Linked DNA regions of Homo sapiens: region 1 is linked to region 2. A link means that fine-mapping ties the variant in region 2 to the expression of a gene that starts in the linked region. Tissue or cell type: thyroid. Region 2 holds a variant in brackets; the other region holds the start of a gene. All regions are shown on one strand. Distances are between the middles of the regions.

Region 1 (8,178 bases), 180 kb before region 2:
GCCATGTGGAACTGTGAGTCAATTAAACCTCTTTCCTTTATAAATTACCCAGTCTAAGGTATGTCTTTACTAGCAGCATGGGAACAGACTGATACACTCAATATGCCCCTTTCTCCAACAAGCTATCCCAAACCATCTGTAGGAAGGGCCTTGGGTGGTTTTTTAGTTGTTTCTGTTTGTTTTTAATTTCCAACTTACTGTGGAATGATACTTTGTAAAATTCAATAAAAAATAAATTACTAGAGCAATACAATTAACAAAGACATACCAAATACAATCAGGACAAAAATACAAGCTCCCTTAAAGAGGCCACAGAAATATTCTGAAGACCATCCCACTTCTCTTACAGATGGGGAACTAAGGGACCTGCCCCCATTGCATAGCTGGTCAGAGGCAGCTCCTCTGGCTGAAGCAAGCTGGGTGCTTTGGCCTAAGCCCTAGCCCTGACCCCAGCCCCAGATCCAGCCCCAGCCCCTGCCCCGGCTCCAGCCCCAGCCCCAGCCCCAGCCCCAGCTCCAGGCCTGGCCAAGTTCTCCTTCTCATCCTTCTCGGAAGACGAGGGGGAGGTGAATGAGGCATTGGCCTCAGGTGCAAAATTTAAGGGGGTGCCAAAAACTCAGTCACCAAGATAAAGAATATGTAATGCAATATATTTCTAAACATTAGAATTTTACACAAAGACAGGATCAGTAACAGTGCTGAGCCGAGCAATATTGGCACCGGAGGCAAAAGGCAGAATCAGTGACATTGTCAGAGCCTTACTTAAAGTTTTGGCCTTTTGTTCAGCACAGATTTTACTGCATTAATGTTGAGAAGGAGGTCATAGGTAGGGCATAGAGAAAGAGTGAATGTCAGGGGTCATTATATGAACAACGTCGCGTGGGCCCGCGACATTTAGCTCCTGGCTAAAATAACTGTGTGCACACCAACGGGAGGGGAAGACGGGGGTTTTCAGAAAACACCTCAAATCAAAACAATTACTGTGTTCCTTCCACTCTGAGACTCCACCAGTCAGAAGATATGTGATCAATTTGTTAATGTATCTCTAGAAGGAAAAAAATGGCAGGTAAACTTCTTCTGACATCATCTATAAGCAACCCCCATAATTCAGAAATATTCATATATAGAACCCTGAAGGGAAAAATCCCAAATTGTTTTTTCCTCTGCTCTCACGCTACGACAATCATCAACGCGGAAGGTTCGTGTCACCATATGTGTGTGTTGGGGGTTCTCCCCACTGCCAAGCAAGCAATCAGTTCCGCAGGAGACACCAGGGTGTCTTCCAACTCATTTCTGACACTGTCTACCTGGAGATAGTGGCAGATCCCACAGGTTGAGGGCTCAATCCCCAAGGCACCCCACCCCCATCCCACTTCGCACAGCAGTTGCAAGTCCAGGCATCCGGAGCTTCTGACCGACAGGCTGGGCTCTCAATTGGGGTTCCCACAACCCCCTCTCAGGTTCATTAATTTGCTAGAGTGGAACACAGAACTCAGGGAAATGTACATTTACTGGTTTATTATAACGCATATTACCAAGAACACAGATGATGGGATGTACAGGGAGAACAGGCACGGAGTTTCCATGCCCTTCCCAGGCACCCCGTCTTCCAGCAGCCTCCACATGTCCAGGGATCCAGAAGCCCCCAAACCCAGACCTCTTGGGCTTCTTAAGGAGACTTCATTGGACAGACACGATTGACGACCATGCAGAAATGTGATCGAACAAAAAGGTATGATCCAATAGTGACTGAGTAAGTGTGGACACCCAAACAAGTCCTGCCTATTCCGACCGTTATTGGCCTTTCCGTGCAGGATTTCTTCCTCTCGGGAATGGGGCAGGACCCCTTCTGAATAGAGGGTCTTAAGTCCCACAATCAGAAAGATGAGGGAGGATTAGAGTCCTGCCTTGGGCTGGTGAGGTGGTGAAGGAGGGCAGGGGAAGTTCAGAGGAGATTGTTTCCTGGGGTGTCTGAGGCCTAAAGCGCCCCAACATTATAACAAGAGACTGTGATGAGGGCGACGAGAGTGCTAAGCCAGGAACCCTGGACAAAACCCAGAATTTATACCTCGTCATATCACAAGGACCAAAAAAATTAAAAATTAAAAAAAGGCTCTTAAAATGCAGGCAATACAGTAAAATGTTTTAATGTAGGAAGCACTAAAGTCTTTGTTCCAACAAAATTAACTCAGAGAACAAATTATTTTACATATGTATACAGATCAATCAACAAAAGTACACATTATAACAATTGCTAAACACTGTCCATAAAGAAAACATTTCAAATGAGAAGCGCCATCGCGGTTTTCTCCTTCTGGGTCACCCAGTGGAATGAGGGCCCTCGCCAGGGGCTCTTCCCAGACGTCTCTTCACACCAACCGGCTTCCTTCTGATGGCCCCATTTTCCTTTAAAACCAGTTCTCATCAAATAGGGTGTTTTATGCACCCTGGCAAATGATCATTTTGACAAGGATTAAAACTGTAAGCTAAACAGATGACACAAATGACAATTGGGAATAATTTTTAGTGGGGACAGAGGCTAAATACTACCCCCTCCCCTTTTCTACTTCTAACCAATATCTTGAGCATTCAGTGGGACAATACAGTCTTGCTGGGTCTCTTGAAATCCTCTAGCAAGAAGCCAGCCAGGAGAAGACCCAGAAGTCCCACACCTGTGGGGCCAGGATGGCTGCTTGGTTGCTAAACCCAGACAGGGTCCTTCCAGTGCATCTGCCCCTGTCAGGCTCTGTCTCGAGACTGGGGATCTTCCAGGCTGGCTTCATTCTGGACCAGAGAGCAGAGGAGAAGGAGAAAGAATATAAACCCACCCCTATGAGCCAGGGAACCACCCAAGCTGTAAGGATTTTGTGCAAGCTGCTGGAACTCGGGTTGGAAAAGCCACCCGGCAAGCAGCTGAAAGGAAGGATGCTTCTCCCTGCGTGGGCGCACGCCTGCTTCCTAAGAGATGATCCTTTGGGTGGGCTGATCATGCCTCCTCCTCTGGGGAGGGAGTCCTGCGAAAGCACGCACCTCAAAAGGAGTAAAGGCCCTATGGTGTCCCCAAAGCGACCCCTGTCGCGTTCTTTCTGCGGGTGGCCTCCCTGCATTACTGATTACTCGGAGCGGCTGAGCTGACGTCAGCATTCTGGGAGCGCCAATGACCTTTGGGGTCATCACATCCTCAGAAACTAGAGCAGGAGGGGAAGCGACCCCCAAGCCAGCACTCCCCCTACTTTCCACCAGGGAGCCGAGGTCGCGCCATCCTGGGGCGCATCTGGGGGTGGGGGACACACCAGCCCCCTCCCCCAACCCCTCTAGGGCCCTCGGCAGCAGGCGGTACTGGATGCCCACCCGGGGCTCTAAAGGACCTGGGCCGCACCGGGAACCCTCGCCCGGGTCTTCGAGCCCTCCCCTTCTCCCAATTCTTTCCGCAGTCTCAGGAGCCCCACGTTTCCCGCGGCGTGGGGACACGCACTTACCGCGGATCCACTGCGCAAACCTTGATGAACCTGAAAAAAGCAGGGTGGGGTGGGGTGGGGTGAGGGTGGGGGTGGCTAGACCCTGCTCGCACCCAGCGCCACGCACCGCTCTCTGGGCGGGTTCGAGTGCGCGCGCCGGGCGGGGCGGGACCCGGGGGCTGCGGTGTTTCGAGAAGCACGTGCTACTTCGCGCGCAGCGCCCCCGGAGACTGTGGGCTTCCTCGCTGCCTGGTCTACGGCAGGGCGGGCGCGGGGGCGTGTTTCAAAGGGTAGGGCACACAGTGAGACGCCGGGAGGCGGGATGGATCCGAAACCAGCTCGCAGCGAGTCCCAAGCGGCTGCGGCCGCCGCAGGGGTCTGGGCGCGGCGACGAGGGCGGCGTGGGGCGACGGGGAGCGGGACGGTGGCGCTGCACGCCGCGCACTTCCTGTTCAACACGCGCCGCCTCCCACCACCCGCGCTCCCCGAGCTTGCGTCGGTGCCAGGCCCGGCCCCTCACTGTCCCCTTGCGGTCCCCTGGGGCCGCGGCGCGGCGGGGGGCGAGGAGCGGGCGCCCTGCCCTTCTTGGCCCGCTGGACTCCGGGCGCCCCCTCCGGCGCGCAGGGCCGCGAGCGCCGCCGCCAGAACTTCTGCCAGCGGCCGCCCGTAGCCTAATTGCGCAGAGGGCTCGCCTTGCACCTCCTCTTCCCCCGCCGCCCTCCCTCTCGCCCAGAAAGGAGGACGGACCCAGCTGCAGGCTCCGAGCTGGTTTATTCTGCGGCCGAGGATTACATTTATGCACGAACGGGCTTACTGGTTCCAGATTCCCCACTTGGGCACAGGCATAGGAGGCTTGTTTTCCAAATTGCTGGTTTTAATTGCACCTGCCTTTCAGATTACCTCTGGGAATCTGTGGGAGGAGCCGAGAGGGTGGAAAATGTTTCTTAGCTTTGCAAAAGGAAGAAAACTTTGTCACCCAGCGGGAGACCTCAGCCACGAGTAACCCGGGGAGACACCAGAACCGGGACGGGCTTTGACTGATTTGCCTACGAGGGTTCCGTAGGAAAGGACGCTTGAATTCGGCGCTTCGGCGGCGGCGGCGGCCGCGCGAGTTCCCTGCTCACCCTCCCTCTCCGCGGAAGTCCCCACGAGGTGGCTTCAGGGTGTAACAGAGCGCGCGGCTCCAGTCCGAAGGCAGCGGCCGGGGGAGGGAAGGAGGGGACCGAACCCCCGAGGAGTTTCGCAGAATCAACTTCTGGTTAGAGTTATGGGAAGCGCGGTTATGGACACCAAGAAGAAAAAAGATGTTTCCAGCCCCGGCGGGAGCGGCGGCAAGAAAAATGCCAGCCAGAAGAGGCGTTCGCTGCGCGTGCACATTCCGGTGAGTCCCAGCACTCGGTCCCCTGCTCCCCAGCCCTCCTGTCGCTCCCGTCCCCGGCGCCGAAGCGGTTAACGCTGGACGCCCCGCGCGCGCCGTGCGTGCCCCTCCTGTCACTTCGGGCGGCTTGGGGAAAGGGTAGAGGGACAGGGCCCGAGCTGGGCTGGCGGAGCCGGGGCTCAATCTCTCTCTCTGCCCGCGTGCAGCCAGGGCTGGGGCTCCGCCTGGGGCGGGGGCTGGGCGGCTGCAGACTAGAGGGGGCGCCGGGCGCGGCGGGTGGGCGGCTGGGCGTAGCCCGGTATCCAGCCGGGTGCGGGTGCGGGGGGCGGTGCGTTGTGTTGTTTTGCTGAAAAGGGACGGTGTGGACTGCGCTCCGGGGAGGTGGAGCCCGCGCTCGGCTGCTGGAGACGGAGAGAGGGGAGGGGAGGGAGGAGAGGGGAGGGGCGGTGGGTGGGGAAAGCAGCGGGGCGGGGGTTGGGGGGAGCTGTGTAGCTGCGTCTTCCAATGCACCCCCTCCGCTCCAGTTTCTCTCCGGGCGTTTCTGGGCCTGGAGCGGGGGTCTCCTCTGCCGCCGTTCCCTTCCCCCGCCCCGGGAGTGTACTTTGGGTCTCTGTGGTATTTGGGGGCTCGGAGCTCCCTAATCCGTGCAGGCTGCATTGAACTTCAGCCCCGTCCGCGCCAGCCGCCCGGGAGGACATTGGCGACTCGGATCTGCCTGCGGCTTCACTTTGTCCAGCCAGAGGGGCGGCGGGCCGCGTAGTGGTTCTCTTTTCGGAAGGCGCCCCGGTAGCCCGCGGCCACTGTTCCTCGCCTCCACGTAGCGGGGTAGGGCGGTGGGAGGTGTGGCCCACTGGGTCACACCCTCCGCCTCAGCCAACCAAGTAAATGTTTGTGTACACACACACACACACACACACACACACACACACACACACACACACACACACCAGAGTGCTCCGTAGAGAAAGTTATTTTGCTCTCCCGGGGCAGGGTGGGAGTGCGCAGTGAATGGGCTGTCCGGACCCCTCATTAAAGCTAATCCTTCCCGACAGGGTCAGGCGCAGCTGGCATGGCCGAGGCAGGCCACTCACTTCCCACTGTGAATCCCAGGGCGCACTGCCCCGTGTTTGCTGAGCCACCCTTCTTTTAGACGCCCCGCTAAGGTCCTCCTGTGTAAACTCCGGCCCACACGTGCCTAACGCTTGGGTGAAGAGGGTGGAGTCCAGGGGCGGGTCTCCAGACACCTGATGCCAAGTAGCCCCACAGGGGCCCTGGGCCAGCCCTCCCTGGCTGGAAAGCTCTGGGGCTGGAAACTTGGACCCCTGGCTGCTGTGTGGCCCCCACGGTGGTGACTCGATTATGCAGGAATAAGTGTTCTATTTGAAAATGAAACATTCTTGTTTACATCTCTCATGTAAGACATTTAAAACCATGTTCGTGAGTTAAAAGTTAGATGTTGCTGCCACAAACCTCTTAAACAGTGATCACTTGAGCTAACCGTGTAACTACTGTTTCTCCCATTTGTCAAATGCAGGAAATAATACCCATTTTTCCTGCTTTATACGGATATTGAAATAAAGTAATTCATGGGAAAACTCTTTTTTATTGTTTTTTTTGTTTTGAGTCAGGGTGTCACTCTGCTCCCCAGGTGGGAATGCAGTGGTGCAATCATGGCTCACTGCAGCCTCAACCTCCCCAGGCTCAAGTGATCCTCCCACCTCAGCCTCCTGAGTAACTGGGACTACAGGCATGTGCCACCACACCCATCTAATTTATTTATTTTTTTTGTAGACATGAGGTTTTACCATGTTGCCCAAAGCTGGTCCACATGAGCTGGGCTCGAGTGACCCGCCCACCTTGACCTCTCAAAGTGCTGGGATTACAGGCGTGAGCCATCACACCCATCCCGGGAAAACTCTTGACAAGTGTAAAGTGTCCTATAAATGTATGGCTTATACATATACATATACATATACATATACATCATATACATATACATATACATCATATACATATACATCATATACATATACATCATATACATATACATATACATCATATACATATACATATACATCATATACATATACATATACATCATATACATATACATATACATCATATACATATACATCATATACATATACATATACATCATATACATATACATATACATCATATACATATACATCATATACATATACATATACATCATATACATATACATATATATCATATACATATACATATACATCATATACATATACATATACATCATATACATATACATCATATACATATACATATACATCATATACATATACATATACATATACATCATATACATATACATCATATACATATACATATATACATATACATCATATACATATACATATACATCATATACATATACATCATATACATATACATATACATCATATACATATACATATACATACATATACATCATATACATATACATCATATACATATACTTATACATATACATCATATACATATACATATACATCATATACATATACATATACATCAGACACCTAGTTTTTTAAAAAAATATATAGAGAGAAACAAGAACATGCCATTGTCCAGTGGTTGGGCCATTTTGTGTGGCAGCCACATGCTGAGGCTGGTTCCAAATGCAGGGTGTGAGTGATGTGTGGGCGTGCCCGTGGGGTGGTGCCAGCGATAGTGTGAGACAAAATCCAGAACCAGAAAAAGGACTGTGAGGCCAGGCCGTGAACGTTGAAAAACCATGTTATAGTTGGGGTCCTCGGACCACCCTTCTTGCTGCCAGTGGTGACTTTGGCAGCTTTTCATAACGTTCTTGGCATGAGCCAGCCCACCGCGAAAGTAGTATTCATTCAGTTATTCCACAGTGGCTGAGGGTGACCACGTGCCCAGGCTCTGGTTAGGGTGAGATCTGGGGAAGATCTGCCCAAGTCCTCACAGGGCTTGCAGTTGCTTTGGGTACCAGGGAGGTCCCCTCATCTGCCTAATGGTCATTACCTATGGATCATTGTGCCAGGCTAGGTGGCAGTTATAACCTCGCTGGGAAAATGAGGCTTTCAGACAAAGGCTAGCAAATGATCCAGGGTCATACGATGGCCAGTGCAGACCACACCTGTTTCTAGAGGCAGAAGGAGCGATGACAGTGGCCTGATGTGTTTAGAGAGACTTTACACCCAGAGATGGCAGGCAGGAGTCACGTAGAAGTGGGGGTGATACTCCCACTAAGGAACCAGTGGGAGCACCCCACAGAATCGGGCGGGAGGGGATGGCTGCTTCCAGGTGAAGAGCCACGCCTCCTGGCGAAAGGGT
Region 2 (8,178 bases):
TGTCCTAAGGGAACTGGCTCCAGCTCTCTCCCCGGGGATGCTCCCGCCCAAGGCCCCTCCCAGGCTACACACCCCTTCCCCATGCCAGGCGCCTCCATCCCGCTGACTCAGACTGGCCACCTGCCTGCCTCTCCCTGGGCCTGCGCTCTGGGGGCAGGGTCCACTTTTTCTGCCTGGCTCTCGGGGAATCTGCGGCAGGTGAACAGGGCCTGAGCCTGCAGGTGGCAGCGCCTGGTCCTAAGGAGCGGCCTTCTGTCTGCTCCCAAGAGCTGCTGCTGCCAGCTCCACAGGGCCCCTCCCAGCCAGAGGAGACACTCCGGGCTGCTCCCCACTCTCCAGCTCTTTTTCCCTTCAGCTGCCCCTTTTCAGGCCTCTCCTCCCTGGTGTGATCGTTTTTATCTGACTTGAGAGGAGAGGTTTGGCCTGACCCTGCCTTCCGATGGATCTGAAACCTACTTTTCAGACAGGGGCTTCAAATCCCAGACTCTCTGCTTTTGAAAGTTTGATGATGGTGGGTGGAAGGTTGCGGGGGGCTTCCTGAAACCTCTCGTAACTGGGGGTGATTTCCTCTTAGCCGTAGGCTATTTAGGCAAGGAAAGAGGTCCTTGTTCTCAGTCAAAGGAGAGATGATGGCGTCAGGGCTGAGGCGCCGGCAGGCCTGGGCCTGCAGAGACGACCTGGCTCTGCTCCTGAGAAGCGCTCACTTCCTCACCTGCCCCAGGCCACCAGAGCAGATGCTTTGCCACATCCACCACAAGGTCCTGTGGCGTTGCGCTGCCCCGGAGCCCCACTGGGGAACCCCATACTCTCCTGATGCTACCAGTTGCCATTGGAGCTGGGAGCTGCCCAGGCGGCTGCACGATGGCTGTGAGAAGGCCCCGGGCGCGCCACGTTTTCCTCTGAAAGTGCTGTGAGCTGCGGCTGAAGCTTGCCAGTATCATGCGCTGAATTTTAACGAATAAGGAGAAGGGAGGAGGAGGAGGTATTTGGTTGGGGTGAAATAGAACAAAGGCCGGCTGAGCTCCTGGCAGCCCTGGCAGGGGCTGCAGAGGAGGCACTGATAGGAGGCTAAGCCACTGGGCTTCCGGGGATGTGTTGGCGATTCTAGCTGGCAACATCAAACCTTATGCCGGCATCAGGCCCGCCCCCTCGGACCCCTGAAGAGCTGGTGTCGTGTAAACACAGGGTGGGGTCTGCTTCCTCTGCCCGGATGAACACCAGACTGTTCTTGCTGTGCTGAGGTCTGGAGGACACAGTGCCTACGGTTTCCACCTGTCTACAGAGAATTCAGACCACCAAGAGTGATTAGTTCAAAGGTCTGTAGGCCAGGGACAGCTAAGAACAAGGCCAGGGCCTAGCCTTACAGCTTCTGCTCAGACCACAAAGAAGAGAGCCGGCTTTAAGCACACCTTGGAAGCAACGCCACCCTGCTGCCCAGGGGAGGTGGCCCATTCAAGAGTTCCTATTTGATTTGTCCATTTCACTGATGGCTGAACTGAGGCTCTGCTCATAAGTGAGCAGCTCTAGTTAGTTGTGCTAGAATGTGTTCCTGAAGTCCTTGCAAAATCAGTTGAAAGAGGGCAGGGATGGTGTCTGCTACCACTGTGCTCCCAGCCCCCAACACAGCTTCCTGCACAATGCCGGCACTTAGGGCACCCACACGAGAAAGTTTGTGTGCACAAGTGCACAGAAAGGCCATCACAAATGCCTACTTCTGGCTGGGCTCATGCTCTCTGGACTCTCTCAAAAGAATGCACCTGAGGGCATTTGGCCTTCTCCCCCTGCAGGAAGTGGATGGGTGTTTATCAAGTAGCTTTATTCAGAAGGAAGACAGAAGAGTCCCAAAGATCAAGGTGACAGGCGGTGTGATTTTATGGTCACATAAGAGGAAACAGGTTTGAGCCATGACTTAGAGAAACAGGTGACTGTCGCTTCAATTTACACAACACAGTGTCATCAGACTCTGCCGGGCTGCAGGCTCTGTGCCCAGAGACACACCCCCAACCCCCCTGTTATGTCACTGGGCAGCCCCACCAGGCATCATGTAAATGTCACATTACCCTTGGCAGGATTCCTCCAACAGCACATCGGAAACTTGGCTGCAGGAAGGCAGGAATGTCTGGCGTTGTCCCGGGCTCCCTCCCTGCCCGGGCCTGCTGACCCAAGTCCTGTGACCGTGGCCCAGAAGGAAGGGACAGGCATGGGCACAGGCTGACAGATTCTGACCCGGAGGGACTGGGGCATCCCCAGGAAACGTGTGGGTGCGGTGTTTGCATCGGATGTCCTTACTCCTTGCTCTGGCCCTCGGTGTTGGGGGCACATGGGGACACCAGGCCATGCAGGCAGCAACCATAGTTGCTGTCACCACAGGAAAGGGAAGCTGCAGACCTAGGAGGGGCAGCGATCTCTTGGGAGACACAGAGCAATAGCAAAGCGATGGCAAAGCCGGGAGGGAATTGTGAGAGAAAGCCCTCCGTGCTGTGTGTAGATGTGGTGGAATAGTATTCAGCCTTCAAAAGGAAGGAGATTCTGACAGGTGCTGCCTTGTGGATGAACCTTGAGGGCATTGTGCTGAGTGAGAGAACGCAGTCATGAAGGGACAGACACTGCCAGATTTTACTCATATGAGGTCCCTAGAGTGGCCAGATTCCCAGATACAGGAAGTAGAAGATGGTTGCCAGGGGTTGCAGGTGGGGAGAAATGAGTTATTTTTATGAGGACAGAGTTTCAGTGTTGTACTATGAAATGGTTCTGGAGATGGTGGTGGTGGGGGCTGCACAGCAGTGTGGTTAATGCTGCTGAACTGTGCGCTTGAAGATGGTCAATTTTAGGTTGTGTGCATTTTAACAAAATCAAAAATAAATGTTTAAAAAGAGTGGACTGTTTGGATCAACAAATTAGCTAACTCAGCGTCTTCGTCTGTTTAGGCTGCCGTAATCATACCATAGACTGGGTGGCTTATAAAGAACAGAAATTGTGGCTGGGCACTGTGGCTCACGCCTGTAATCCCAATACTTTGGGAGGCTGAGGCGGGCAGATCACTCGAGGTCGGGAGTTCAAGACCAGCCTGGCCAACATGGTAAAACCCTGTCTCTACTAAAAATAGAAAAAAATTAGCTGGGTGTGGTGGTGAGCAACTGTAATCCCAGCTGCTCAGGAGGCTGAGGCAGAAGAATTGCTTGAACCCAGGGGTCACAAGTTGCAGTGAGCCGAGATCACACCACTGCATTCCAGCCTAGGCAACAGTGCGAGACTCCGTCTCAAAACAAAAAAAGAACAGAAATTTCTTTCTCACAGTTCTGGAGGCTAGAGTCCAAGACCAAGGTGCTGGTAGATTCTGTGTCTGCTGAGGACCTGCTTCAGCTCCTCCTGGCTGCGTCCTCACATGGTGGAAGGAGGAGGGGTCTCTCTGCGGTCCCTCTTGTAAGGGCATGGGGCACCACCCTCCTCACCTCCCAAGGCCCGGCCTCCTAACACCATCACCTTGCGGGTAGAATTCAACATAAGGACTTGGCAGGGACCCACACATTCAGACCACAGCCTTCAGAAAGTTTTACTAACATATTTCTTGGATATTTGTAAATATTTTTATACTCAGTATATAGATGTCTTTAAAACACAACTTTTAAAGCTAAAAATAAAGCAAGCTCTCAAGGTGCAGCCATTGCATAGAACCCTCTCGTGGGCCTAGCGTGGCTGCTGATGGCCCGGGGAGGTGATGGGCCTGGAGGAGGGACGGGTGGGGCATATTCAGGCCTGCAAACTCCTCTCTGGGATGAGTAGCCACCTGGTGAGGGCCTCACCTTCTCACTTTTCCCTGGAACCCCTCGTGCGCCCCTCGGAGGGCCTTGGGTCTCCTTATGGCCGCCTTGGGCCTCCTGTGCTGCGGGTCTCAGGCCTGCCCTGGGCAGCAGGACATCATCAGGCTTTCTGCATGTTCGGACCTGTGCCAAGAGCCGCTGTAGAGAAGACTCATTGACCTGTCCACACCTTTCAGGGATATGCAGAGATATACCAAAGACCCCTGTCCTCAGGAGCGCCGGGTGACTGAGTCTGGTGGAAGGTGAGGGCGGGTGAAGGAGTGGGATCTCCCTTTCTGCTCCCAGCCTAACCTTTCAGCTCTCTCCTGCCCCCTCCCCTTCTCCCAACAGCAGGGGAAGGCAGGGTACAGGCTGTGTGAGCACAGCTGTCTCCAGGAGGGGAGGGAGTTGTCTGGGTGACAGGGCCCAGGTTGCCTGAGCCTCTGAGACCTCGCTCCTTCCCCCTCGCACTCCCCCGCCCCCTGGTAGTGGCTCCATTCTGTCACCTTCAGGAGATGACCTTTGGGCCAGAGGGAGAGGGAATTCAGCTGCTATTTTTATGTGAGCAGGTCTTGGGCCCCAAGGCGGAGGCAAGGTTTCCACCATCATGCTGAGGCGTCTCCATCCGAGCCCTGCCTGTCCCTCCTTCAAGGCCCAGGGGAAAAGCACCTGCTTCCCCCATTGCAGAGACAACCCCCCCGAACTCATGTTAGGGCACTGTTGTAAAAGTCAGGATTATTTAGCTATAAGTTACGTAGAGTAAAACTCACCCTTTTAAAAAAAAATGTGCTATTCTGAGAGTTTTGAGAAACATCTGCAGTTGTGTAATCAGCACCACCGTCAAGACATAGAACAATTCCAACACCCAAAGAAATTTCCGCATCCCTTTTTATAGTCAATTTCTCCCCTCATCCTCAGCAAACACTGACTTTTTTTTCTGTCCGCTATAATTTTGCTTTTTCCAGAATGTTGTATAAATGGAAATATATAGTATGTATATATTTGGACCTGGCTTCCTTCACTTAGAAAAATGCATTTGAGATTAATTCATTGTGTTGCATATATTAAGAGTTCTTTCCTTTTTATTACTGAGTAGTGTTCTATTGTATAGATGCACCAGTTTTTTGGTTTGTTTTTCATTTTTTTTTGTTTTTTTGTTGTTTTGAGACAGGGTCTCACTTTGTCGCCCAGGCTGTAGTGCTGTGGC[G/A]CAGTCATGACTCACTGCAGCCTTGAACTCCCAGACTTAAGTAATCCTCACACCTCAGCCTCCCAAGCAGCCGGGACAACAGGAGTGTGCCACTGCACCCAGCCAACTTTTTTAATTTTTTGTAGAGATGGGGTCCCACTATGTTGCCTAGGCTGGTCTTGAACTCCTGGCTTCAAATGATCCTCCTGCTTCAACCTCCCAAAGTGCTGTACCAGTTTATTAATTCACCAGTTGAAGGATGTTTGAATTGTCTCCAGTTTGGGGCAACTATGAATAGAGCCACTGAAAACATTGCATTCAGGATTTTGTGTGAACAAGGTTTCATATCTTCTAAGAGTGGCATCGCTAGGTTGTATGGTAAATGTATGTTTAACTACAGAAGAAACTGTCAAACTATTTTCCAAAATGGCTATACTAGTTTGTATTTCCACCAGTGACAAATGAGAGTTCCTGTTGTTCCAAATCATTGTCAGCACTTAGTATTGTCAGGTTTTTGTAGACGTTAGCTGGTCTAGTAGGTGTAGTGATGTTTCATTGTAGTTTTAATGTATATAGCCCTAAAGATTAATGATGGTGAATATCATATCATTATTTGTCATCTGTATATCTTCTTTGCTGAAGTATGTGTTTAAATCTTCTGTCCACTTTTTTTTTTTTTTTACTGAGTTTTTTTTGTTGTTGTTGTTACTGAGTTTTGAGAGTTCTTTATATACTCTGCTACAAGTCCTTTATCATATATGTGTTTTGCAATACGGTCAGCCCTCCATATCTGCAGGTTTCACCTCCTCAGCTTCAACCAATTCAGATCAAAAATATTCAGGGGAAAAAATAATAAAAATAATAATACAACAATAAAAATACAGATGAAAAACCAACACAGCATAATAATTACTTGCATAGCATTTCCATTATATTAGGTATTATAAGTGATCCAGAGATAATTTAAAGTATACAGGAGGGTGTGTATAGGTCATATGCACGTATTACACCATTTTATATCGGGGACTTGCACATCCTAGACTTTGGTGCCTGAGAGGGGTTCTGGAATCAATTCCCTGCAGACACAGAGGGATAGCTGTGTTTTCTCTCTGTCATGTTTCTTGTTTCATTTTCTTAACGGCGTATTTTAAAGAGCTTAAGATTTAAAGTTAGATTTGTCTACTTGTTGAGCACTATGTACAAAGCAAGCTCCACAAATCTTTCTTGAGCTGGGACAGTGCACCAGGCCCCATGGGATAGCGATAAGCGAGACTCACTGCCATTCACGCTTAGTGGAAGACCCGAGGTGCATCAGGAAACAACCCAGCACTCTATCATTTGATAACATTGGAATGTGCTAAGTGCATGAAAAGGAGGAATGATTCACTCTAGAAACCAGTGAGGGCTTCACAGAAGATGAGCTTAGCTGACAATAGATGCTGAAGCTGTGGAGTGAATCAGAAGTGGAAAAAACCCGGCTCCCCTAAGCACCGTATTCAGATATCATTTTTCATGCACTGATTCTAGAAACCTGGCACTAAAGAGAAAATTGCATGGAGGCAACATGTATGATGTGGTACAATTGAATCCGGGAACCCTGGTCCTGTCCTTCCCTCCCAGCCTTGCACCTTCCTAACGGCTGCTCCTCTCTTGGGTCCTTTGTGGAGTATCCGGCCTGCCTTCTGCAGATTGACCAAGAATAACAGAGCAGGAACCTTTCGGGGAAGAGCAATGTGTAGAAAGGGGAGGCAGGGCATCTTGGAAGTTTGTCAAGTAGATGAGGTATCTGGAAGGGGGCAGGGGGCTTTCCAGAGCCTCAGATCATGCAAACAGAGGGCTGAGTTCTCCCTCCCCGCGAAGCGAGCTCTACCAGGGGTAGGTACTGTCCATCAGACACAGGCAGCATTAGGAATTCCAAGCTCCCTAGCAAGAGGGCTCCTTTCCCACCTCCCTCGGGATGAGTGGTTACCTGTCTATTAAAAACACTAGCAGCAATTCAGGTGTGATGCTGTCATTTTTTATCATGGCCCTGAACTCCCAGAATTGTTGTTGCCATCGAGGGGCAGAGGTAAACCCTAGGTTTGAGATTCCAGATCGTCTTTGAAAGGATGCAACCAATACTTTTGTTTCCACCACGAGACGCTTATTTCCCTTTCATCTGCAGCTTTCCTTCCTCTTCTCTTCCTCCTCCGTGGAGAATCGTACCAATTAATCACTGGAGGCAGACAACCACTAGAGCTCACGATCCCTGCCTCTCCCTTCATGATGTGAATGAGGAGAGCTCCTGGAGCTGGGAACGGCACCATGGAAACGAGCTCTGGGGCAGAGGCGGCAGTCTGGACACCGTCCCAGCCTCCCCAACCCGTCTCACTGGCACCTGACACCCAGAGGGCCTGCCGGGGTGGCGTCAGATGATGTGTTGAGTCAACAGAACCCCAGGAGAGCCCTGGTTGGAGTCCCATGGCAGCCGGCTGCAGCCAGCACCCCAGGAAGGGAGTGTCTGCCACCGGCTGCAGCCGCCACCTGGCCTCCTGGGAGACCTGGCGGGAAGGGGAAAGCCGGGCAGGAACCACACTCACAGACGGTCTCCCCATCCCCGCCTCTGCCGCCTTCTCCTGCTTCGCTGTACGTGGCTCTCCAAAGTGGAGGTTTGGGAATGTGCTTCTGTGGCCCATACCCCACGTGGCCCACACCCCATCGTGCCAGGTAGAACAATGCATTCTTGTCTCCCCTGAGAGCTGTACACCTGGAAATGGCTTGGGATACACTTCCAGGAGGGGATGGTGACTGAAAGCCCTCCCTGCATCACCCACAGCCCTTCCCACCTGTGCCTCATCCAGAGCCGTGAGCCTGGATGATCAGAGGGAGCCCTCCAGAGTGAGGATAAACAGCTCAGGAATGGGACCATTGTGGGAGGCCACTGGAGCCCCCCAGGAGGGGATCTGTTCATGAGCAGTGAGCTACCACCAAGGGTTCAGAGCAGACTCAAAGAGCTGAATTATAGAAAGCACAGGAAAAAACTCCAGGTACTATTACAGATTTTAAAAACGACTATGCTCTGGAAGCTTTAGTGTGACAGGGTCCCAGCGAGGCGTGATCTTGATTTGGTTATCACACTGATTTTCCACTTCATTTTCAGCCACATTTTCTCCTATTCAGGGCTCCTCAGAGACTTCTGAGTTTGGAGGTTCA

Direction of the effects. Positions count from the first base shown, and alleles are read on the strand shown. Sizes are in standard deviations (SD) of each study's normalised expression.
For the expression in thyroid of the gene that starts at base 4,231 in region 1, G is the high allele of the variant in region 2 and A is the other (moderate effect, 0.41 SD a copy in GTEx).

The links. PIP is the estimated chance that this variant, and not a neighbour inherited with it, causes the effect.
Region 1: it holds the start of PRKAG2, and the variant in region 2 is fine-mapped to the expression of PRKAG2 in thyroid (GTEx, PIP above 0.99).

What each region holds. Positions count from the first base shown.
Region 1 is chr7:151,873,168-151,881,345 of GRCh38, reverse strand. PRKAG2 (protein kinase AMP-activated non-catalytic subunit gamma 2) reads left to right here and starts at 4,231. Exons shown (of 16, transcript NM_016203.4): 1 at 4,231-4,839. The coding sequence starts at 4,726. It overlaps PRKAG2-AS1 (PRKAG2 antisense RNA 1), which reads right to left and starts at 4,304. Exons shown (of 3, transcript NR_038926.1): 1 at 4,206-4,304; 2 at 3,480-3,509; 3 at 2,123-2,784. RefSeq lists silencers at 3,737-4,166, 4,929-4,978, 5,039-5,178 and an enhancer at 5,369-5,488.
Region 2 is chr7:151,688,974-151,697,151 of GRCh38, reverse strand. The region is part of intron 3 of PRKAG2 (protein kinase AMP-activated non-catalytic subunit gamma 2); the gene reads left to right. Among named protein-coding and RNA genes, the nearest start is that of PRKAG2-AS2, 110 kb to the left of the region's middle. RefSeq lists enhancers at 1-4,353, 6,564-8,178. The variant G/A (reference allele first, on the strand shown) is at 5,008.